Homo sapiens: one gene and its partners. The protein of the gene in region 2 interacts with the protein of the main gene of each other region in a pairwise test. Each region holds a gene or a part of one and is shown on either strand. Other genes may lie near its edges.

Evidence for each region.
Region 1: the proteins of PPL (region 2) and TSC22D4 interact in binary tests that used the Homo sapiens proteins (3 or more experiments, as listed by UniProt).
Region 3: the proteins of PPL (region 2) and PLEKHA7 interact in binary tests that used the Homo sapiens proteins (3 or more experiments, as listed by UniProt).

What each region holds. Positions count from the first base shown.
Region 1 is NC_000007.14:100,465,066-100,471,135, forward strand, and holds the end of TSC22D4 (TSC22 domain family protein 4), read right to left. Parts: intron 2,536-6,070; coding exon 2,487-2,535; intron 2,104-2,486; coding exon 1,894-2,103; 3' UTR 1,454-1,893; downstream 1-1,453. Other genes in the region: TSC22D4-C7ORF61 (uncharacterized protein LOC122198330), read right to left, coding at 2,487-2,535.
Region 2 is NC_000016.10:4,882,007-4,888,022, forward strand, and holds the end of PPL (periplakin), read right to left. Parts: intron 5,222-6,016; coding exon 5,129-5,221; intron 4,042-5,128; coding exon 1,378-4,041; 3' UTR 501-1,377; downstream 1-500. UniProt on the Homo sapiens protein: Component of the cornified envelope of keratinocytes. May link the cornified envelope to desmosomes and intermediate filaments. May act as a localization signal in PKB/AKT-mediated signaling.
Region 3 is NC_000011.10:17,003,462-17,013,335, forward strand, and holds part of PLEKHA7 (pleckstrin homology domain-containing family A member 7), read right to left. Parts: intron 1-9,874. UniProt on the Homo sapiens protein: Required for zonula adherens biogenesis and maintenance. Acts via its interaction with CAMSAP3, which anchors microtubules at their minus-ends to zonula adherens, leading to the recruitment of KIFC3 kinesin to the junctional site.

The sequences.
Region 1 (6,070 bases), on a different chromosome or scaffold from region 2:
CAGGTGTGGTAGCTCACACCTGTAATCCCAGAACTTTGGGACGCCAAGGTGGGAGGATTACTTGAAGCCAGCAGTTTGAGATCAGCCTGGGCCATATAGCGAGATGGTCTCTACCAAAAAATTTAGGCTAGGCGCAGTGGCTCATGCCTGTAATCCCAGCACTTTGGGAGGCTGAGGTAGGCAGATTACTTGAGTTCAGGAGTTTGAGACCAGCCTGACCAAAGTGGTGAAACCCCTTCTCTACTAAAAATACGAAAAAAAAAAAAAATTAGCTGGGTGTGGTGGTGCACACGTGTAGTTCCAGCTACTCAGGAGGCTGAGGCATGGAAATCGCTTGAACCTGAGAGGTGGAGGTTGCAGTAAGCTGAGATCTCACCACTGCATTCCAGACTGGGTGACAAGAGCGAAACTTCGACTCTAGCTGGGCATAGTGCCACATGCCTGTAGTCCCAGCTACTTAGGAGGCTGAAGTGGGAGGATCACTTGAGCCCAGGAGTTGAAGACTGCAGTGATCTATGATCACACCACTGCACTCCAGCCTGTGCAACATAGCAAGGCCCCATCTCTACAAAAATAAAGAAAATTAGCTGAACGTGGTGGCGCACACCTATAGTTCAGGGAGGCCAAGGCGGGAGGATCACTTGAGCCAGGAACGTGGAGGCTGCAGGGAGCTGTGATTGTGCCACTGCACTCTGGGCATCAGAGCAATACCCTGTCTCAAAAAAAGAAAGGAGAAATGAAAAAAAAAAAAAGAAAAACCAAAGAAGTTGCCCAAGGTTATGAACCTAGGGAAACCTAAGGAGGCAGAGAGTCAGGCACTCCAAGACAGGTCAGCCTCCTTGGAGGCTGCTGGGGCCAGGGGATCCCGGGGCTAGGGGCCTCCTGGGGCTACAGCTGCAGCTCTCGCCTCTTCCCCACTAGATGGGGTCCTTCTCCATTGCTGCTGACTCTTCCGCCTGGGACCGGAGCCCAGGCTGCCAGGGAGGGGCCAGCTCACCCACAGGGCCCGTCCTCAGCTGGCCGGGGGTGGGAGCCACGGCGGCTGGCCAGGCCTGGCAAGGGCACCGTGTGCCCGGGGAGCCTGGCCCACACCCAGCCCCGAGACAAGGGGCCCATTCAGGGCCCCCCGCCCCGCCCCCAAGCAGCCACCCGGATCCAGCCCGCAGAGGGGACACACTGGGAAGCCAGGGGTGGATCTTGGGCAACCACCAAAGACCTTATTGTTTCCCAGCCCCCCGCCCAGCACGTGGGCAGACGCCCCCCCACCCCCAATCCTCACTTGCCCCTTCCCAGGACCCGAACCGCTGGCTCCCTTCTCCAGCCTCTGTCTCAATTCCTCCGTCTCCCACGCTTTAAACCTCCCCAGTCTGCAAAAGATCTCAGGGGAGCCCTAAATGGCAGGCGCGACCCCTGAGTCTGAACACAAGCAACGAACGAGATGTCAACCTCCAAATTCAAGTTTCTTCAGAGTTTTTAATTATTATTATTATTTTAATAACAACCTGAATCCCAGAACTTCCAGATACTGTCCACACTCCCTCCCCTGGGCAGAGGAGAGGAGGCACCTCAAGGGAACAAGATGGGGGTGGGGTGTCTGCCGGGGAGCCTCCGACTCCCCCAAGCCGTCTACTGCTGGGGGGTCCCAGGAGGGAGGGTGGGGGTTGGTTCCCTCCCAGAGGGGGCTCCCTCTGACGCCCCGTCCTGAAGCCCTCCCTCCTCCATCAAGGCTGGGGATGATGAGGAGATGGGGCAGGGGCCGGGGGACCAGGCCATTACTGAGCCTTGAACTCCCACCCCGGGGACACGGGGACATTAAAGCTGCATAGGAAGAGGGGGCAGGCGGCTGACGCAAGGCCGGGCAGCCCCAAAGGCACATTGTAAGGGAAGGGAGGCTCAGACGGAGGGCCCATTGGGCGCAGGGGGCCCAAGCCGTGGGACCCCCGAGGAGGGCAGCTGAGCCAGCTGCTCCGGGCTGGCCAGGGCGCGCAGCAGCCCATTCTCCTGCTCCAGCGCAGCGTTCCGCTCCGCCAATTCCCGGATCTGCTCCTTCAGCACCTCCACCTCCTCCCGGACCGCAAACATGAGGTGGGACTTCACCAAGTCCTGGGGGCCCCGGGACAGGCACAGCGTCAACGGGGTGGGTGCCTCATCCCCTGCCCAGTGCCTTGAGGGCTGGGGTGGGAGACAGTCCCCAGTGTCCAGAGGATGAGGGACAAAGCAGGGAAGGGACAGGGGAAAAGGACGAGGGACAGAGGCAGAGTCAGGGCTCAAAGACAGAGATGGGGACCAGTAGCCAGACTAGAGGCTGGGCAAAGTCAAGGGTGGAGGTGGTGGCAGGAGGGGGCAGAGGATGCCCAGCAGCCCAGCAGGGAGAGGGACGGAGGAGCTGGGAGTTGGTGTTCCCTGGTAAGGAAGAGGACAGGGCTGGGGCAGAGGGATGGCTTAAGGGGGCCAGGACCTCCTGGGACCAAGATGGCTTCTCTTACCATGGCTTGCTCGATTTTGTTGTCAATGCCAACCAGGCTTCCGGAGCCACTGGAGAGACACAGGAAGGTGAGGGGAGGAGAGGAGAAGCCTTCCCAGGTGCTGGTTTCTTGGACCACAGCCTCCCGCCCACACCCCCCTGTACCTGTGACAGTAGAGAATGAGGGAGAGGAGGGTTTTGTCCATCCCCCTGCGGGTTGAAGGCCGCTGCCCAGGGCCTCCCAGGCCCCGGTGGGGCGGGGGCCCAGATGTCCCTCGGATGGGGGATGCACCCCGGGGAGAGCAAGGGGAAGAGGCACAGCCCCTTTTTCGGGGCAGCCCCGGAGCCATCCCCACCACTCGGGTCTCATAAGACGACACCAGGGACTTGACAGAGACCCCTGGCTGGGCCATGCCCAAGGGGAAAGGGTCCTTAGACACCCCCCCAATGGAGAGGGATGCAGTGAAGGGAATGCCTGGGGGGCTCAGAGCCCCCCGGGCAGAGCAGGGTCTGGCTGGTGCCAGGCAGGCAGAGAGGAGACAGTGCCTCGGGGGTGCTGGCCTGAAAGATATACACCACCCCCCCAAGGGCAAGGCCTGGCTGCTATTGGCTCCTTGGGGACACGGGGACCCCCCCTCCTTTCAGCTCCTCGGTGGGCGGGAATTCCCAGACACGGTCAGTGCCAGTGTCCCCTTCTCACCCTGGCACCAATCCCAGAGTGGAGGGGAGGGGGCCGGCCGAGGAAGTCAGCTGGTGGCTGGGCCAGGGGAGGGGCGTGGGGCAGAAGCCTGGGTCTGAGCGGGGAGTGAAGGGTGTGAAGGGAGAGGAAGGGGCTGGCCTTCGGAGGCCCCTCGCCACCTCCGACCCCATTCTGTCCCCTCCGTCACTCAAGGCCTTGGGAAAGAGGGTGGAGGTGGCTGGGGTAGGGGGCGTTCTGACGTGCTCGTGGTCTTCCATAGATCATGAGCGCTCTCCCACCAAAAAACCCCACAAGGCTCACATCATGGGTGACCCCTGGGATCTGGCCAGAGGGTCCCTGAGTCTCCAGAGAAGACCAAAAATGGGAAAGGTTACCATGGCAACAGAAACTGAGCCCAAAGCCCTAGAAGATGAATACAGCGTAAAGGCCAGGCGTGGTGGCTCACACCTGTAATCCCAGCACTTTGGGAGGCCAAGGTGGGTGTATCACTTGAGGTCAGGAGTTTGAGACCAGCCTGGCCAACATGGAGAAACCCCATCTCTACTGAAAATACAAAAATTAGCCAGGCGTGGTGGAGGGTGCCAGCAATTCCAGCTACTCAGGAGGCTGAGGCAGGAGAATCGCTTGAACCCAGGAGGTGGAGGTTGCAGTGAGCCGAGATCGTGCTACTGCACTCCAGCCTGGACGACAGAGTGAGATCTTGTCTCAAAAAAAAGCCAGGTGTGGTGGCTCACGCTTGTAATCCCAGCACTTTGGGAGGCTGAGGCGAGTGGATCACCTGAGGTCAGAAGTTTGAGACCAGCCTGGCCAACATGGTGAAACCCTGGCTCTACTAAAAGTACAAAAAATTAGCTGGGCATGGTGGGGGGTGCCTGTAATCCTAGCTACTCTGGAGGCTGAGGCAGGAGAATCGCTTGAACCTGGGAGGCGGAGGTTGCAGTGAGCCGAGATCGTGCCACTGAATTCCAGCCTGGACAACAAGAGCAAAACTCTGTCTTAAAAAAAAAAAAAAAAAAATCGCCTATGGGCCTGGGACCTGGGTCTGGGGTCTCAGAGGAAGCGAGGGTTTGAGGAGAGGAAGGGAAGTGAGCTTGGAGAAGGGACACTGGGAAGAGGAGCAACAGGGCTTGGAAGAGGGCTGGGAGTCTGGGGTGACAGGGTCTGGCTGCAGTCTGGGAAGTGGCCACCAGAGGGCGACTCAGGCCTGGCTCAACAGCCCCCAGGGCCGGGCTCCAGGCTGGCTCCACGACGTTGGGCTCCTGGTCCCAGAACCTGGCTCTCCCTCAAGCCCCACTCTCAGGCCCCACCTGCGCAGGCCCTTGTGCTGACCTCATCCTCCAAGGCTCCCTCTCCCACCCCTCAGGCCCCAGGCTCTTGCCCTGAGGCTCCCGACCCACCCTTGCACCCCTGCACTCTGGCGCTGTGGCGGGATCCCCAGTCCTGCCCTCCAGCCCCCAGCTGGGCCCCCCTTGGAGCAGGGGCCTCAAGGCGCTGCAGCCCACATCCCTGGACTCCCTTGTAAGCCCTCCCTCCTGGCTGTCAGCTCAGACTTGCTTTCCTGCAGGGGGATCAGCACTCAATTCAAGGTGACCCCTGGATAAGGTCCTGCAGCCAGGAAGGGAGCACAAGGGAGCTGGGAATTTTCCATTTCTCATCCCAGCTCTGGGTGCAGAAGGCGCTGACAGGTGGAGCAACTAAGGAGGTGACTAGGCCTGAGCGAGCAGGATGGGGTGGGTGGGGGAAGGGCATCTGGGACTCTTGGGGTGGTGGGAGAGGAGAAGTTGAAGGGTGGAGGTGGGTCTGCCAGCAGGAGGGTCAAAGTAATTTTCGAGCTATTTCAATCAGCAACACCTGGGTGGAGATGGAGCCACCACAGAAAGCCCAATACTGCCACCACCCCATTAAACACTCACAGAGACCAAAGGGGTTGGATACACAGGGATAGGAACATGGGCCCTGCTGGGCAGAGACTCAGGGGTAAAGATGTCAAGTAAGGTGTTCATTCTCACCAGAGATAAAGGAATAATACAGCAATAAACGTTTGTTAGCCGACAGGTGACTGTCTTCTGTTTGTCTAGCGCCTGGGAGTTTTTGCTCTTGTTGCCCAGGCTGGAGTGCAATGGCGGGATTTTCCCTCATTGGAACCTCCACCTCTGGGTTCAAGTGATTCTCCTGCCTCAGCCTCCAGAGTAGCTGAGATTACAGGCATGAGCCACCATGCCCAGCTAATTTTTGTATTTTTGCCGGGGAGCCTCCGGCAAAATGGGGTTTCACCATGTTGGCCAGGCTGGTCTTGAACTCCTGACCTCATGATCCACCCACCTCAGCCTCCCATCTCAGTCCTGGGATTACAGGTGTGAGTCACTGTGCCAGGCCTCTATTGGAACATTCTAACACACACTTCAAGGGACCAGGGCTCTGGCAATGCAGGCCCTTCCCTTTAGGACCCCAAAGCGAGGGGTTGTGGGCACTGTGCTAGAATTCTTTGACAGGGTCCGGGGGAGGAAAGTAGGGGCTGCTGAGACAGGATCGACCTCCACCACAAGCCCAAAAGCAAGTTTGTATGGATTAGAAAATGCCCCCTTCTTCGAGATCCTTAATGCCATCTTCTGGAAAACTGTCGTGACTTCAAGCATTGACTGTGATTTCAAATATGAGCGGCACCCCCTGGAGTTAGTTGTGCAGTGTGTGACATGCACAGTGGGAGACTTAGCCCTGCAGGACTCTTGGTCCTGGGGCGGGGACAGCCCTAGAAGCTGGTCTTCCTCTTTGAGGGTCAAATAAAACGGCCTCAACATGAAGATGAGATAAAAAGCAGGACACCTGGGAGAAATGGGGAGCCTGGGATCTTGGGGACAGGGGCCAGCCCTGCACACTCTCCAGTGGGTTCAGGGGATCCCCCAGGG
Region 2 (6,016 bases):
TAGTGATGCCTCTTGCCTCAGGGAAACGTTTCTTTGATGGGGAGTTTGAGATTTCTTTTCCTTGTTTATGCTTTATTTGTGGTAATGAAAGAGCGAATGACTGAACAGCCATGGCAAGGCAGACCTACAGGCGAGGCCGCAGCAGAGGGTGGGGCAGAGCAGCCTCGGGGTCTGGGGGCTGCAGGGGTTTCCCTGGCGCAGCGAAAGTCTCTGAGCACTTACCGGGCGTGACCGTTTCTTAGGTGTGAGAGGGGCTGTGGCTTTTGTGCAGCGACTATGTTGGTGTTAGGGGTGGTGTGGAGATTGTTAATCTTGTATAAAGCAATTCAATAAATTGTTTCAAGGTTTCCAAAACATTTTTTCTCACTCTTTTCTTTCTACCATGTGGAAGTAAGTAGTTCTTCCTGTAGGAGCTGTTACAGATGGAATATCCATTTTGGCTGAAAGCCAAGGGGGGGGGGCGGGGGAGTAAGCCTTGCATGCAAAAGAAGAAACATGTGGACCGTACAAGCAGACTCCAGCCACCAGGTTTATTTTCATGCTATAAATAAATTTCCCTATTAGTTCCCATTTTCTTATGTTCTACATGAGATACAGAGACCCAGATATTGGCGTGGTGAATAATCAACTGTTTTGTATACCTAAATACCAGTGAGATAATAAGCGAGACTTGTAAAGCACTGAAACTAAGGCTAACAGCAGCACAATCCACTATCAAAGGATTTAAATGCCAGAACTGTGAAACATTCTCTGTAGGTGCCGGGACAGTCTGGTGGCTGACAATTAACGTCCACTCCAGCACCGAGGGCTGGACACTTGTGGTTTCTGTTCACCTTTCCTGGCTTGGAGCCCAGATCTGTCTCATGAGCAGAGTAACTACTGAGGAGGCTTCTCGGATGGAAAGTTGGTTTTAAGCCAGAAATCTGGAGAGATGTCATGCCAGGCAGCAGCCCCCACGGGCCCAGGCCTTTGTGGGGCAGTGTCACTGTCTGGTGTGCCACCAGTACCCATGCTGCAAGGAGTGGGCTTGGCTGCTGTGGTTGGCTTGTCCTTCAGTGGTTTTCAGATTGTGTGCAGTTATCATGAGGAGTTTGTTGCTGGGAGTGTACAGGAAAAGGGAGGAAAAGGCATCGCAGTTGTCCAGTCATTGGAGGATGAAGTACGTCACTCAGGGTGAATGATGGTTGGGACGAGAGTTGCCTGTCTTCAGCCAGTGCCTGTCTCATATGTGGGCGGGACTCTGAGCAGCCTGGCAGCGAGGGTATGTATAAAATGCTTGGCCTGCACCAGGGCAAGGGAGAGGACGACACCAAGGAGGTCACTGCGTCGTAGGAGAGGGCCAGCGTCTGCCGTTACGAAGAGTTGCAAGAGCTGTGCCTACTTCTGCCCAGATACCAAGACCGCCAGCTCCTGGATGGACATATCCTTGTTGACATAGCGGTCATACTGAGCAGGGGTCAGCCTGCCACTCTGCAGGGCCTCTTCGATGGAGAACTTCTTGCCAGACTTCCTGTCGTGTATCACTGAGGACTCCCCATTGGGACCCTTCACTGAGATCTCCTCCCAGTCGCACTCCTGGCTTCTGAGTTTCACGAACATGTTCCAGTCAATGAGCCCGGCACGGTGGGCTTCCTCCGGGGACAGCTCGCGGCCTGTGTCAGGGTGGATGACTACGATGGAGCGCCGCAGGTGGTTCTCCCGCTGCTCCCGCTTGACGGCCACGGAGCCCAGGCGCTTCTGCAGCTCGTCGATCTCGAGGTCTTTGTCCTTGGAGAGCCTCTTGAGGTCATCCAGTTCCCTCTCCAGGGACCACAGTCTGGAGTCATGGTTGGTCCCAGAGTCCGCCACGGTCATGTTCCGCAGGTCTCGTGTTTCCGTCGCTGCCATGTTGATTTCCGATTGGAGCCTTCGGGTCTCCAGCTGCAGGTTTTGCCTCTCCAGCTGTAATTTGTGGTTCTCTTCCCTCAGAAAGTCTAGTTCCTTGGATGACTTGGAGTTATGGAATTCCAGCTCCGAAAGCCTGGCTTCCAGCCGGCTCACCTCGACGTCCAGCTCGCGCTTGCTGCGGCTCTCCTCCTCCAGGCTGCTCTTGAGCCTCTGGATCTCTTGCTCGGTGTCGCCCTTCTCCACCTGGACACTCTCGGAGAGCACCACCTTCTCCTTGACCTCCGCCTTCTCCAGTGCAGCCAGTTTCCTCCGGAGGGTCTCGAGCTCCCCCTCCAGGAGCTGCCGCCGGTGCTGCTCTTCTTCCAGCTGGAGTCGGAGCAGGGCATGCTCTCGCGCCTGCTGCGGGTCCTGCTGCAGCACCACCTTCTGCGTATGGGTTACCTTCTCACGGGCCTCAGCTTCTTCCTGCTCCAGCGCTGCCAGCCGCTGCTGCAACCGCTGTACCTCGCGCTCGGCCTCCCTGCGGGCCTGCCGCTCGCGCTCTAGCTCCTCCAGCTGCCGCTCAAGCTCGGTGCGCCGGCGCTGCAGCCGCCGCAGCTCTGCCCGCAGCTTGTCAATCTGCCGCAGCTCCACATCGATGCTCTCGGCAAAGGCGCTCGCCTCGGCCCGCAGGCCTGGCTCCTCCTCATACCTGACCACCTCCTGCTGCACCACCCTTTCCTTCACCCGCGAGAGCTCCTCCTCTTTCCGGGCGATCTGCTCTTCCTGGGAAGCTCTTTCCCTCTCCAGATCCACTTGTTTCTTCTGCTCCTCTGAGAGCTTTGCCCTCAGAGACGCCACCTCCTCCTTGGTTTGAGGGTCTTCTTGGAATTGGAGGATCTCCTGGACCACCTCTTTGGTCTGGACCTGGGGTTTGGTGTCTTTCAGGGCCTGGATTTCCTTTTTCAGCTGGTAGATCTCTAAATCACACCTTTCGATCAGTCTGGTCTTGTCCACGATCTCCTCCCTGAGCCGCTGAAGCTCCTTCTCCATCTCAGGGTCAGTCTTGTACTTAATGACTTCCTTAGTCACCTCTTTGACTTCCACCTGGGGGCCTCGCCTCCTGAGGGCCTCCAGCTCACTCTGGTAGCTCCGGAGCTGCTCCTCGGCACCCCGGTACTTTCGCTCCTGCTCCACAAGCTCCAGGCGGAGGTTCGCCACTTCACTTTCCGCCTTGGGGTCTGGCCGCACGATCTCCCGCACCTTCTCCTGCACCACCACTTTGGCGTTCTCCTCCTCCAAGGCCCATATCTTTCGGAGCAGCTCCGTCTTCTCCCTCTGGCTAGCGCGAGCCTTGGCAGCCTCGTCCTCATATTGGCGGGTGAGATCGCTGACCTCCCTCTCGGTGGCCGCGTCCTTCTCCACCTTGAGCACCTCCTTGACGGTGATCTTGCCCTCGGCCATGGCCCGCTCCTTCTCTAGCCTCTTGAGCTTGTCCTGGAGGAAGCTCAGCTCCTCCTCCTGCTTCTCCCTGAGCTGGTCCTGGCGCTGGTGGTCCTCCTGCAGCTGCTGGTACTCTGCCTCCAGCTGGGGGTCATTCTGCAGTTTCACCACCTCTTTCTCTGTGACCTTCTCCTGCGCCCGGCTCTTCTCTTCAGCCAGGGCGGCCACACGCTGCTGCAGGAGGAGCACCTCTGCCTCCCGGGCGCCCTTCTGCCGCCTCAGTGCCTCCAGCTCCTCCCGCAGCTGCAAGACCTCATCCGCCTGGGCCCTGTCAGGCTCGATGCGCAGGACCTCCTTGACCACGTACTCCTGCCCCCCGTCTCTGGTCTCCTGCTCCAGGGCACGCAGCTGCAGCTGCAGTGCCTCCAGCTCCTCCTGCAGCAGCTGGTTCTTGTGCTGCTCCTCTGCCAGCGTCCGCTGCAGCTGCTGGAAGCTCTCCTCCAGCACGGGATCCGGCACCTTCTTGAGCACCTCCTTCCTCACCACCGATTCCTGAGGCCCCTGATTCCTCAAGGTCCAGATTTCTTCCTGGGTGCTCTTGACCTCGTTCTCCAGCTGCCGCCTCCGCTCAGTCTCCTCATCCAGTTCCTTCCTGATCTTCCACGCCTCCTCCACTCCAGAGTCCGGCCTATTCCTTTGCAGGGTCTCATGGGTCACTTCTACTTCCGGCTGCTGTGATGGAGAAGACAAGACAAGGTTAAAGCCAGGCTCTGGCAGCACATGTAGGGCCTGTCCCCACCTGGTCAGAGTGGCTGTCCTGTGGTCCCCAAGGGACTCCCTCAGTGCCAGTTCATGTTAGTTGTAGAGTTCTAGGGTTACTTTCAAAAAGGATCAAACAACTAGTTTGGGGTTTTTTTTAATCAGGTAAAACATTTTTGAGCTGTGGAAGAGTTTAAAATGAAACCACGGTCTCCCACCTCTGGTCCCCGTCCTAGGGCGTGTCTGTCAGCCTTGCAGATGCTATCTGTGCTCACACAAGAATATCTGTCTGTAGTATGTACCATGTGTTTATCTCTCCTGCACAAATGGTATTCCTGCTGCTCACTGCACTTACAGAGCTCATTCCAGCTCAGCACAGAGAGTGCTGCTTCAGGATTTACCAGCAGCATTGTTTCCGCTCTCTGGACAGACCGCAGTTTAGCCCATTGCTGATGAAGAGTGAACTGCTTCCAGTGTCTTGCTATTAAAAAACAATGCTGTCATCAACATCATGGACTTCAGAAAATAACATTCACTTTCTTTTGTTTCTTTCTTTTTTTCTGAGACAGAGTCTCGCTCTGTTGCCCAGGCTGGAGTGCAGTGGCACAGTCTCAGCTCCCTGCAACCTCCACCTCCTGGGTTCAAGCAATTCTCCTGCCTCAGTCTCCTGAGTAGCTGGGATTACAAGCATGCGCCACGACGCCCAGCTAATTTTTGTATTTTTAGTAGAGACGGAGTTTTACCATGTTGGCCAGGCTGGTCTCGAACTCCTGACCTCAGGTGATCCGCCTGCCTCGGCCTCCCAAAGTGCTGGGATTACAAGCGTGAGCCACCATGCCCAGCTGAAAATAGCATTCACTTTCAGCAGATGTTTACTGAGTTGAATAAGTTCTCATGTCAGTAGAAGCATTGGCTCGGGCCAGTCTTTGCATTGGCCCTGCCCAGAAACGTTAGCAAGGGGACACTTCCATCAATTCACAAACCATTTCTCTAAGACAGAGTCTGTATTTGTCACCTGTTAGAACAGCCTGAAGTAGAATTTCTTACTAAGATCAGTTACCTGTCTGAGGAGATTCAGAGCAAACTCCAGATTCTGCAGCCTCTGTCTGTTGATGGCATAAACTTCAGTGAACTTGGCGGCAAGTGCTGCTTCCTGCAGAGAAGAGGATTAGGAGAGCGGTCAACAAACAGGTGTCAACAGGGTAAGCAACAGAGAGCTAGACAGCGTGGACGTGGTTCTTGAGAAGTGTGGAATTTGGGGGTAGAGGCATAGCTCTTGCCCACTCCTGCCTGGAGTTAGACTGTAGCCTCACCGGTGGAGAGAAAAATGGATCTCGAGGCAGAAGATCCAGGCCAGGGTCTTGGCCACACTGACTTTGAGCAAGTCTTTCTGCCTCTTAGAGCACCAGTGTTCTCTCTTGTGTGTACAGGAGACTAATATCAGCCCTCCACTGTACTTACTGAGGTGAGCAAAACAGGAACTTCCCAGATCCATGGTTCTGACCCTGACACTTCTGTTCAGCTGCATTTTCAAAAATTTTTATTTCTTAAAGACAGAATCTCTTTCACTCAGACTGAAGTGCCATGGTGTGATTGTAGCTCACTGCAGCCTTGAACTCCTGGGCCCAAGTGATCCTCCCTCCTCAACCTCCCAAGTAGCTGGGACTACAGGTTTGCACCACCACGCCTGGCTAATATTTTTGTAGATATGGGGTCCTGCTTTGTTGCCCAGGCTGGTCTCCAACCCCTGGGCTCAAGCAGTTCTCCCACCTCGGCCTCCCAAAGTGCTAGGATTACAGGTGTGAGCCACTGCGCCCGGCCTTGCTGTCTTTCTAGGCATATTGATGTCACTGCCCTAGAACAAGTTCCTCATCTCTTACCAAACCTGTTTGCATGCAGGAGGGCTCTCAGTGGCTTCCCTGTTGTGTGTGCATCTCTGAGGCCAGCG
Region 3 (9,874 bases), on a different chromosome or scaffold from region 2:
ACAGAAGAGGAGCTCACATTTATTGGGCATTTACAATGTGCCAGTAAACGTGGCACTACTACTTGCTAAACCCTTTCCATCCATCAATTAACTCACATAATCCTCACATTTAACCCCATTTTACTGGTGAGGAAGTGAGGCTTAAAGAGAGCAGGTAACCTGCCAAGGTCAGGGAGCTGTATGTGGTGGAGGTGAATTAGAGTCTAGGTAGTCTGACTCCAAAGTCCACACACTTGGATACCGTCTCTTTACACATGCTGTCACCCACATCAAAAGCCCTTTTCATACATTTTTCTGCATGATGAAGTTGCCTAGCTGTGCTTTGGGCTTCAACAAAAACCAACCCTGCTGCCCAGGCCAGTATCCTGAAGAGGGCTGGATGAGACAGAGAAGTGATCCGGCACAACTCACAACTCAGTACAAGCAAAAGACAATCCAAGGTTACCACAACTGCTGATACTTTCCTTAAGTCCTCCTGTACATCCTGTTTGGAGATGTAGGGCCCAGAGAGGCTGAAAAGCCAACAAGGAGTCTCTCCGCACTCCTCTGTCACCTAAGACTGAACAGGGGGAACTCGCATTCCTCTGCCGGTACACATTTCTATTTAGAACACAAAGCAATAAACATGATGCATCTGGCCGAAGAATTGATTTGAAAGGAAGATATAAGAAAGGATTACATAATAAATTAAATTGAGGGTAAAGTCTCAATTAATTTTAGTCTGTCAATGAGTTTTTGGACAGAACCAACATTTAATGGCACTTCCTGCATCCAGTCTCCTAGGTGAGTTGGCCTTCATTCTGTTCTGCCATTAGACCTATGGCTGAAATGTCTGAGAAGCCTGGATATGAGGAACAATATGTCCAGGCCTCTCCCTTGAACTTTGAAGAAGCTGAGCTAATGCAGTATACACCTTTTTTTTCCTTTTTCTTTTTCTTTTTTTTTTTTAAGACACTGTTTCACTCTTGTCGCCCAGGCTGGAGTGCAATGGCGCAATCTCAGTTCACTGTAACCTCTGCCTCCTGGGTTCAAGTGATTCTCCTACCTCAGCCTCCCGAGTAGCTGGGATTACAGGCACGCACCACCATACCCAGCTAATTTTTGTATTTTTAGTAGAGATGAGGTTTCACCACATTGGCCAAGCTTGTCTTAAACTTCTGACCTCAGGTGATCTGCCCACCTCGGCCTCCCAAAGTGCTGGGATTACAAGCATGAGTCACCATGCCCAGCCCAGTATACAACTTTAGAGAAGTCACTTTACCCCTCTGAGCCCAAATTCCCGCACTAAAAAAATGCAATAATTATGGGACAAACCAGAGAATGTTCGTGAAATACTCTGTAAATGATAAAACATTAACTCAAAATATTTCTCATTTCAGAAAATTGAAAAGCAAATGTTTTGACAGCCATTTAAAAACAACAGGCAAATACAACCATATTCCTCCGTGTTTTTCCCTCTGCCAATATTTACTTAAGATACCTGCCAGTTTGCTGAGATGATGCTGTCTTACACTGAGCAAAGAGATTCAAACCTGTGCTGTCCTCTGAAGATAGAAAACAAGAGCAGGTACCTCACTGAATTGCCAAATATTCCACATATTGAGGCTGAAAAGCCAACAAGCAGTCTTCCTACAGCCCTCTGTCACCTCAGACTTAACGGGGGGGGTAAACTGGCATCTCCCTGCCCCTGCACACGTTTCTGTTTAAAGTGCTGTCTTAATTTTTTTCCAAAGTTCTCAATTTAGGAAGCACCAAATTTACTCCCATAGACATCAAAAGAGAATGGAGGCTGGGCCCGGTGGCCCACGCCTGTAATCCCAGCACTTCCAGGAGGCCAAGGTGGGCAGATTACTTGAGGTCAGGAGTTTGAGACCAGCCTGGCCAACATGGTGAAACCCCGTCTCTACTAAAGATACAAAAATTAGCCAGGCGTGGTGGTGGGTGTCTGTAATCCCAGCTACCCAGGAGGCTGAGGCAAGAGAATTGCTTGAACCCAGGAGGCAGAGGTTGCAGTGAGCTGAGATCATGCCACTGCAGTCTAGCCTAGGTGACAGAGCAAAACTCTGTCTCAAAACAAAAAAAGAAAGAGAGAGAGAGAGAATGGAGAGGGTGCCATCAAGGCACAAGAAACCTACACCCACCCTCATCACATGAAAACACCTCTTCCCAACCCAGCATCTGTCCTATCTCTAAAACACACTCCTCTCATGGGTAAAGAGCCTTAAAAAGCAACTTGCAACCATTTTTCTTAAAGACGTTTCCTTAAAGAAGTTTCTTTTTGGAGATGTGGTATAAATCATGGCTCCTAATCCTTCCTTTCGCTTTCTAAACAACACTCACTGTTTTTCCTTTCCCACAGAACCTAACGTTTAAATCCATGAACCAGTTTTTACCCTTGAAAATGCAACCAGGAAGTGAAATATAAAGCATGGGATTCTGCCAAAACTTGCCAAGCTGGGAAAACCTTTCTTAACCTTCAATGAGGGGGTTCAGAATTTCTATTTTAGTATATATGTAAGCTGCTAGTTTCCCAGAAATTCTTTGTGGGACTATTACCCCCAGGTTTGAAATAAAGTTTCTGGGACTGCTGTTCCCAGCAACATCTCAATAAGAAGGATGACAAATAAGGCTGGGCATGGTGGCTCATGCCTGTAATCCCAGCACTTTAGGAAGCCAAGGCGGGTGGACAGCCTGAGGTCAGGAGTTCAAGACCAGCCTGACCAACATGTGAAACCCCGTCTCTACTAAATTACCCGGGCATGGTGGTGGGCGCCTGTAACACCAGCTACAAGGGAAGCGGAGGTTGCAGTGAGCCGAGATCACACCACTGCACTCCAGCCTGGGCAACAAGAATGAAACTCCATCTAAAAAAAAAAAAAAAACGTCCAGGCACGGTGGCTCACACCTGTAATCCTAGCACTCTGGGAGGCCAAGGCAGGCGGATTGCCTGAGGTTAGGAGTTCAAGGCCAGCTTGGCTAACATGGTGAAACCCCATCTGTACTAAAAATACAAAAAAATAGCCAGGCATGGTGGCGCATGCCTGTAGTCCCAGCTACTCAGGAGGCTGAGGTGGAAGAATCGCTTGAACCCGGGAAGCAGAGGTGCAGTGAGCCGAGATGCCGCCACTGCACTCCAGCCTGGGTGACACAGCAAGACTCAGTCTCAAAAAAAAAAAAAAAGGAAGATGATATATAAGTGAATCAATAGGTTTGACATTCTACAAGATAAATTTCACTGCCATGAAGTTCAACATTTATCTAGGGAGGAAAATATAGAAGACAGGACAGACTCCTTCCTAGGGGTGGCCCAGAAGACTGTCGGTTGGGTGAGGTCATAATTAAGGGCAGCCTCCTGGGCTGTCCAGTATTCACTGGCTTTCCTAAGGGCCTTCTAGGCCTGGTGTCTACAAAATCCCCAACTGAACATCTGTCACATTTGGTTCATCCTTCACTCTCCAACTCCCTTTGATTTCAGACTAAAAAATGGGTTGCTGAATACAAAACACACACCCTTGATACTTGGCATTATCTCCAGAGGTAACCTTCTGAAGGACTCATGCCTGGTCCCCACTCCCTGCCTCGGAGGACCAGGTTCTTAACTGCCCACTCCCAGCCTCCTGGAGCCCTAAGCCCTGCCTGGGCTCCCTGCTCCTCCCTGCTGCCCAGGGGGGCATGGATACAGGTGCTTGTGCTCTATGGTGTCTTGGAGTGGGGCATGGTGGTGGCAACTCCTAGCATATGAGGTAAATGCACTGATATTCACATTTAAAACATTATATTCTACAATATAGAAATAACTATAAAATTTATGCTAATAATTTAAACTTAATTTTTCTTTATGTAGAATTACATTAAATAGAAAAAAAAATTTTTTTTTTGAGACAGAGTTTTACTCTTGTTGCCTAGGCTGGAGTGCAATGGTGCAATCTTGGCTCACCGCAACCTTCACCTCCTGGGTTCAAGCGTTCCTCCTGGCTCAGCCTCCCAAGTAGCTGGGATTACAGGCACTCGCCACCATGCCCATAAATAGCAATTTTATTTTTTTTTAAATGACAAGTCAAGGGAAAAACTACAGAAGAACAAAATTTTACATTTTAGGATCTCTAAAGATGCTTTTTTTTTTTTTTTTTGAGACAGAGTCTCATTCTGTCGCCCAGGCTGGAGTGCAGTGGCGTGAGCTCAGTTCACGGCAACCTCCGCTTCCCAAGCTCAAGTGATCCTCCCACCTCAGCCTCCCTAATAGCTGGGACTATGGCCATGCACCATCACACCCGGCTAAGTTTTGTATTTTTTGTAAAGATAGGGTTTTACCATGTTGCCCAGGCTAGTCTCAAATTCCTGAGCCCAAGCAATCCTCCTGCTTTGGCCATTCAAAGTGCTGGGATTACTGGGTGTGAACCACCACGCCCGGCCTAAAGATATTCAGTTGGTGCAAAAGTAATTGCAGTTTTTACCATTAAAAGTAATAGCACTAACCGCAATTACATTTGCACCAAGCTAATACTTTTTCCTTCTTTTTCAATAAGGAGCCTTGCATTTTCATTTTACACTGAGGCTCTGCAAATTATGTAGCCAGTCCTGCCCCTAGGACCTGCTTCAGGTCCTAGGGGAGGGGAAAGTTAGCCTTACTCCAAGCCTCAGAAATGTCTTTCCCAGAGTCTAGCTGTCCTCACTTGGGGACAGGCACCCACAAGAAGAAAGTACCTACACAGGGTGGCTCCACACAACCCCAAAGCTAAAACTGAGAAACCTGAAGCTAGAAAGGGTCTTGTGCAATCAGCTGGTTCCTGCCAGCACCCTTGTGCCAAGTCACAGATGATGCCAAGGGCCCAGCAGCCAGGGAAGGAAGACAGCCTAGTCCAGTAGCCAACAGGTATCCCAGTCCCAGATGCAGAGCAATAAGGATATGAAATGAAGACGCAGAGGAGGCCGTTTGAGCCTCCACCAGCCAGCTTCCTGCTTTGAGCATTGTTCTCAACAGCAAGCGACTGTATCCAAGAAGCCTGGGTCTAGGCACCAGCCTTGACAGGCCTGTTCCTGGCTGTTGAGCTTCTCTCACCTTGCTTATTCTCCTCCACCCCAATCTCCTTCCCAGTAAGGAGTTTTCCAAGACCTGGAATACCTAGAAAACTCATTGGGTCTCTTTAAAACACTGATTCCTCAAGAGATGCCAAGTGCCTACTCAGCTCCCAGCCCTGGGCTGGGTGCCTAAGTCACAGAAGTGGGGAATAAGATGCCTGCCTTCAAGGAACAGCCTTGGCACAGGCAAGGTGGCTGAGCCCCTCTTCTCTGCCATCTCCTCATTGCCTCATGACCTATTTAATGCCTGCTGTAGGGGGAACGGAATTCACAAGGTTCCATGAAACCCCTGAAGAGCAGCCCAGTGTAATACTCTAACTCCCATGGCCTCTTCTAGAAACTTCTCCCTCATAGGTCCCATGTTTGAAAAAGCTGTGTCTGCCAAATTGTATTTACTAATAATCAATGTCTTCAATTTCTTACTAATCAGAGACATGTACCACCCCTAATCAACATAGGAGACCAGGGGGTACTGCCCTTCCAAAGTACCTCAATCCCCAGAAAAAGCAAAGATGGAGTCTGGCCCCATAAGCCTTGGGGAAGCCTAACTCAGAGCAATGGCATATGGGCATTCATCTCCTTCAAGATGCATGGCCTGGGGTAGGAGCTACCACTACTACTGTGGCTATCACATGAGGGACCAAAGACCTATGTTCCAGTCCCAGCTCTAACACTTCAGCAAAATCATTGAACCTTCATGGACCTGAGTTTCATCATCTGAAGAATGGGGATGATTCTTCCCCTCCTGCCTCCAGGGGCTGCTATAAGGATCAAATAAGAAAAGACACAAGAAAAAAAACCATCTGCTATAGGAATGTCCAGGATTACGGCAAGATTCTATGTCTGTAAAACGAAACTAGTAGTAGTTCCTACCTCATCAAACTATTGTGAGAATTAAATCAATGACAGTTACAGAACAGTTCCTAGCATTTTTCAAAGACCCAAAAAGATTAGGCTGTTATATAATTATTACTACTATTATTGCTACTTCTGTTAATGACACTATTATCACAATTACTATTATACCTTGCTACCCAGCTAAGGGATTCATAGTAGAGAAGTGCTAGAGTACAAAAAGTCTTCGTTTTATTTATTTATTTATTTATTTATTTACAGACAGGGTCTCACTCTGTCATCCAGGCTGGAGTACAGTATCACAATCATAGCTCATGGTAAACTCAGACTCCTGGGCTCAAGCAATCCTCACACTTAAGCCTCTCAAGTTGCTAGGATTACAGGAGCATACCACCATTAATTTTTTCATTTTTTGTACAGATGAGGCCTCTCCGTGTTGCCCAGGCTGATCTTGAACTCCTGGCCTCAAGTGATCCCCTCGCCTCCGCCTCCCAAAGTGTGGAATTGCAGGCATGAGCCACTATACCCAGCCAAAAAATCTTTTTAAAGGGGTTATCAACATCACTTAGTCTAGAACTGGGAGAACCAACAGTAGATTTCTTATACATTTTGTCCCTCATTAATGCAAAATTGAACAAAAAGTGCAGAAATCAAAACAAAAATTCACCTGCCTAACCTCAAGCTTTTCTGCTTCAAGAAATGGACTCCGAGGCCAGGCACAGTGGCTCATGCCTGTAATCCGAGCACTTTGGGAGGCTGAGGCAGGCGGATCACTTCAGGTCAGGAGTTTGAGACCAGCCTGGCCAACATGGTGAAACCCTGTCTCTACTAAAAATGCAAAAATTAGCCAGTCATGGTTGTGCACACCTGTAGTCCCAGCTACTTAGGGGGTGGCCGAGGCATGAGAATCACTTGAACCCAAGAGGCAGAGGTTGCAGTGAGCTGAGATCGTGCCACTGCACTCCAGCCTGGGCGACAGAGCAAAGCTGTCTTTAAAAAAAAAAAGAAAGAAAAAGAAAAGAAAGAAAAGAAATGGACTCTGGAGAGTATTAAAACATTTGCTGGCCAGGCATGGTGGCCTGCATTTGTAGTTCCAGCTACTTGGGAGGCTGAAGTGAGAGGATCACTTGGCCCCAGGAGTTCAAGGCTGCAGTGAGCTATGATTGCACCACTGCACTCCAGACTAGGAGACAGAGGAAGATTCTGTTTCTTAAAATTTTTTCAAAAATTAAAATGTTTTAATCTGCTAAATATGAGGAGCAACTGAATACATCCTGTAAAACCTCACACAACTTTCCTGTGCAAGGAGCCATTAGGAAAAATAAAATCAGCCATGTCAATGCTTTGTCGCTCTCACTTTATGAGCCAGATTAGAGGAGGCTCCTGCCCTCAACACAAAAATCAAACATTCAGAAATGCTCACGGCAAAGCTAAGAAATCAGACAACAGTAAAACATTTTTCATGTGGGGGGCGGGGGATGAGGGAGAGAACAATTACTCCCAAAACCCTTAAGTCTCTCAAAAAATTGTCACAGAAGGACGTCAGAAGTACAATCACCTGCCACAGGGCCCTGCCTTTGAGGGTAGGGAACACTGTCACACATTGCTTTTTCTAGGCCTGGGAGGAGTCAGCCAAGGCCCTGGGGGCACAGGAGCTCACTGTAGGAAAATCATTAGGGACCTCACAGACAAGTTACCATGGAAGAGTCAGCAAAGGTGTGGAAGGCTGTGCTCCAGCCTCCAGAGTCCCACACGCGGCCTCACACACCCAGCCCAAGGCTGCACCTGGTACTTTGGGACACTTGCAGCCCTTCCTCCCGCCAAATGAATGATGGGCCCTGCCCCTGGGTGACGCTAGTGAGATGCAGGCCATGGATCCCATCCCTCTCACCTTCTTAGAAACACTGCTCCAGCAACTGCCCCGTCTCTTTACTGCAGCATCGACTTCTTCCTCTCAGTGGGATCATTCCCATCAAAACAAACATGCTGTACAATCTCCCACCAAAAAAAAGAACCCTCCCTCAAACCCACATCCTCTCCAATTACCGGCTAATGTCTCAACTCCACTTTGCAACAAAACTACCTGGAAGATTTGCCTAACTGACTCCCTGTCTTCACCCCGTGTTTTATCTTCCACCTACTCCAGTCAGATTTTGTCCTTTAAGGCTTCTGTGACCATGCATTCTCCTGGGGTTTCTCCTACCTTCTCAGTCCTTCTCAGTCTCCTTGCTGGCTTCACCTCTCACCCCTCTAAACACTGCTTTGACCATCCAAAGCCTCAGAACATCTCTCTTCTGTCTGTACTCTCTTCCTAGGGGATTTCATCTAATCCCATGGCCTTGAATAACATCTATTATACCCAATGGGTCTCTTCTGTCCTCTCTCCCCACCAAGCTTCAGATCACACTATCTGACATACTCATATCTCAAATGTAAGATGGCAAAACAAGATCTCATGATTCTCCTCCACCCCAAACCGGCTCTTCCCATCTCAACGATATGAATGCTATCCACTCAGGTGCCCAAGCCCTGAGGAGTCATCTTTGCCTCTTCTCTTTCTCCCACAGACTATTCAGTCCATCATGAAGGTGTGAAGAGCCTATTTCCTAAACACAGCCTGAATGTGACCACTACTCCCTGTCTACTGTGCTACCACCCTCAGGCAAGCCACTTCTAACTCCTGCCTGGAAGAGGGCAACAGCCTCAGCTGCTCTCCTGCCTCCCCCTGCAGTGGCCACCTACAATCCAATCTCCTCACAGTGATCGTTCTAAAAACACACACCAAATCATGCCATTTCCCTGCTTAAAACCCTCCAATGACGTTTCACTGGGCTTAGAATAAAGTATGAAAATTCCTCACCCCGGCTCACAAAGCTTTGCGGCATTTACCTTTCTCCTACCTGTGACCTCTCCTCATGCCACTTTCTCCCTTGTGCACCACATTCCAGCCTTCCTGCTCCTTAAACTCCAAGCTCTTTTCTGCCTTAAGCCCTTGCCCTGGCTGTTCGCTCTTCCCGAAATGCTTTGCCAACTCATCATCACATGATGTCTCCTTCTTGTCATTCAAATTTTACTTTAAATGTTGCCTATTCAGAAACACCATCCCGATCTCCCAGTACAACCAAGCCACCCAGTCACTCCATGTCACATCACCTTATTTTAACTTTCTGCACAGTAGTAACCACGATCTGATATTATTATTTGTGTTTTTTACTTATTTTCTACTCCCTTCCCTCTCCTATTAGATTGCAAGCTCCATGAGCACCTAGAACTTTTCTGTTTTTTGTTCCCAATGCCTAGAACAACGTGTGAACGTGTGGCACACAGGAAAATTGTAATAACATCAACTGATGCAGTTATGAGCCAGAGAGGCCCACTGACAGCAAGACTCTGATGGCCCCAGCCAACTCCCCAACTTCACATACACACATATGAGGCAGGGCAATAGAACCGCAGCAAGGCCCTAGTCCTTAGGTCTGTAAATCTCACCCATCAGTATTTTCAACTATTATGCAAGAACCCAAACCAGAAAAGGAGGTTCCGGGGTTTTCTTGAAATAGGCTGCTTTATTCCTAACAGTAGTAGTTCTGACTCACAGTCGCCGAGGTACACCCAGTCAGTACTAGTCAGACCACCGTCCAGACCTTTGGCGAGCTGATTCATTCAGTGAACAAACATTTACCGAGTGCCTACTTGCTGTCCGGCACTGGGGCAAGGGGTCAAAGGCAGTGTCTGGCCTCCCGGAGCTCAGCAGGCAGAGGGAAACACGCTGCAACACAGACTCCCGCCGGAGTGGGAAAGCAAAGCCTGTACTGGCATAGGAGCCTGACCCGCGCCTTCACTTACTGCGCCCCAATCTGACATGGACTGATCCTACAGACCCAGGGTAACCTGGCTGGTGCGCCAACACTCCGGGGCTTTTGCGGAAAAGTCGCCCGTG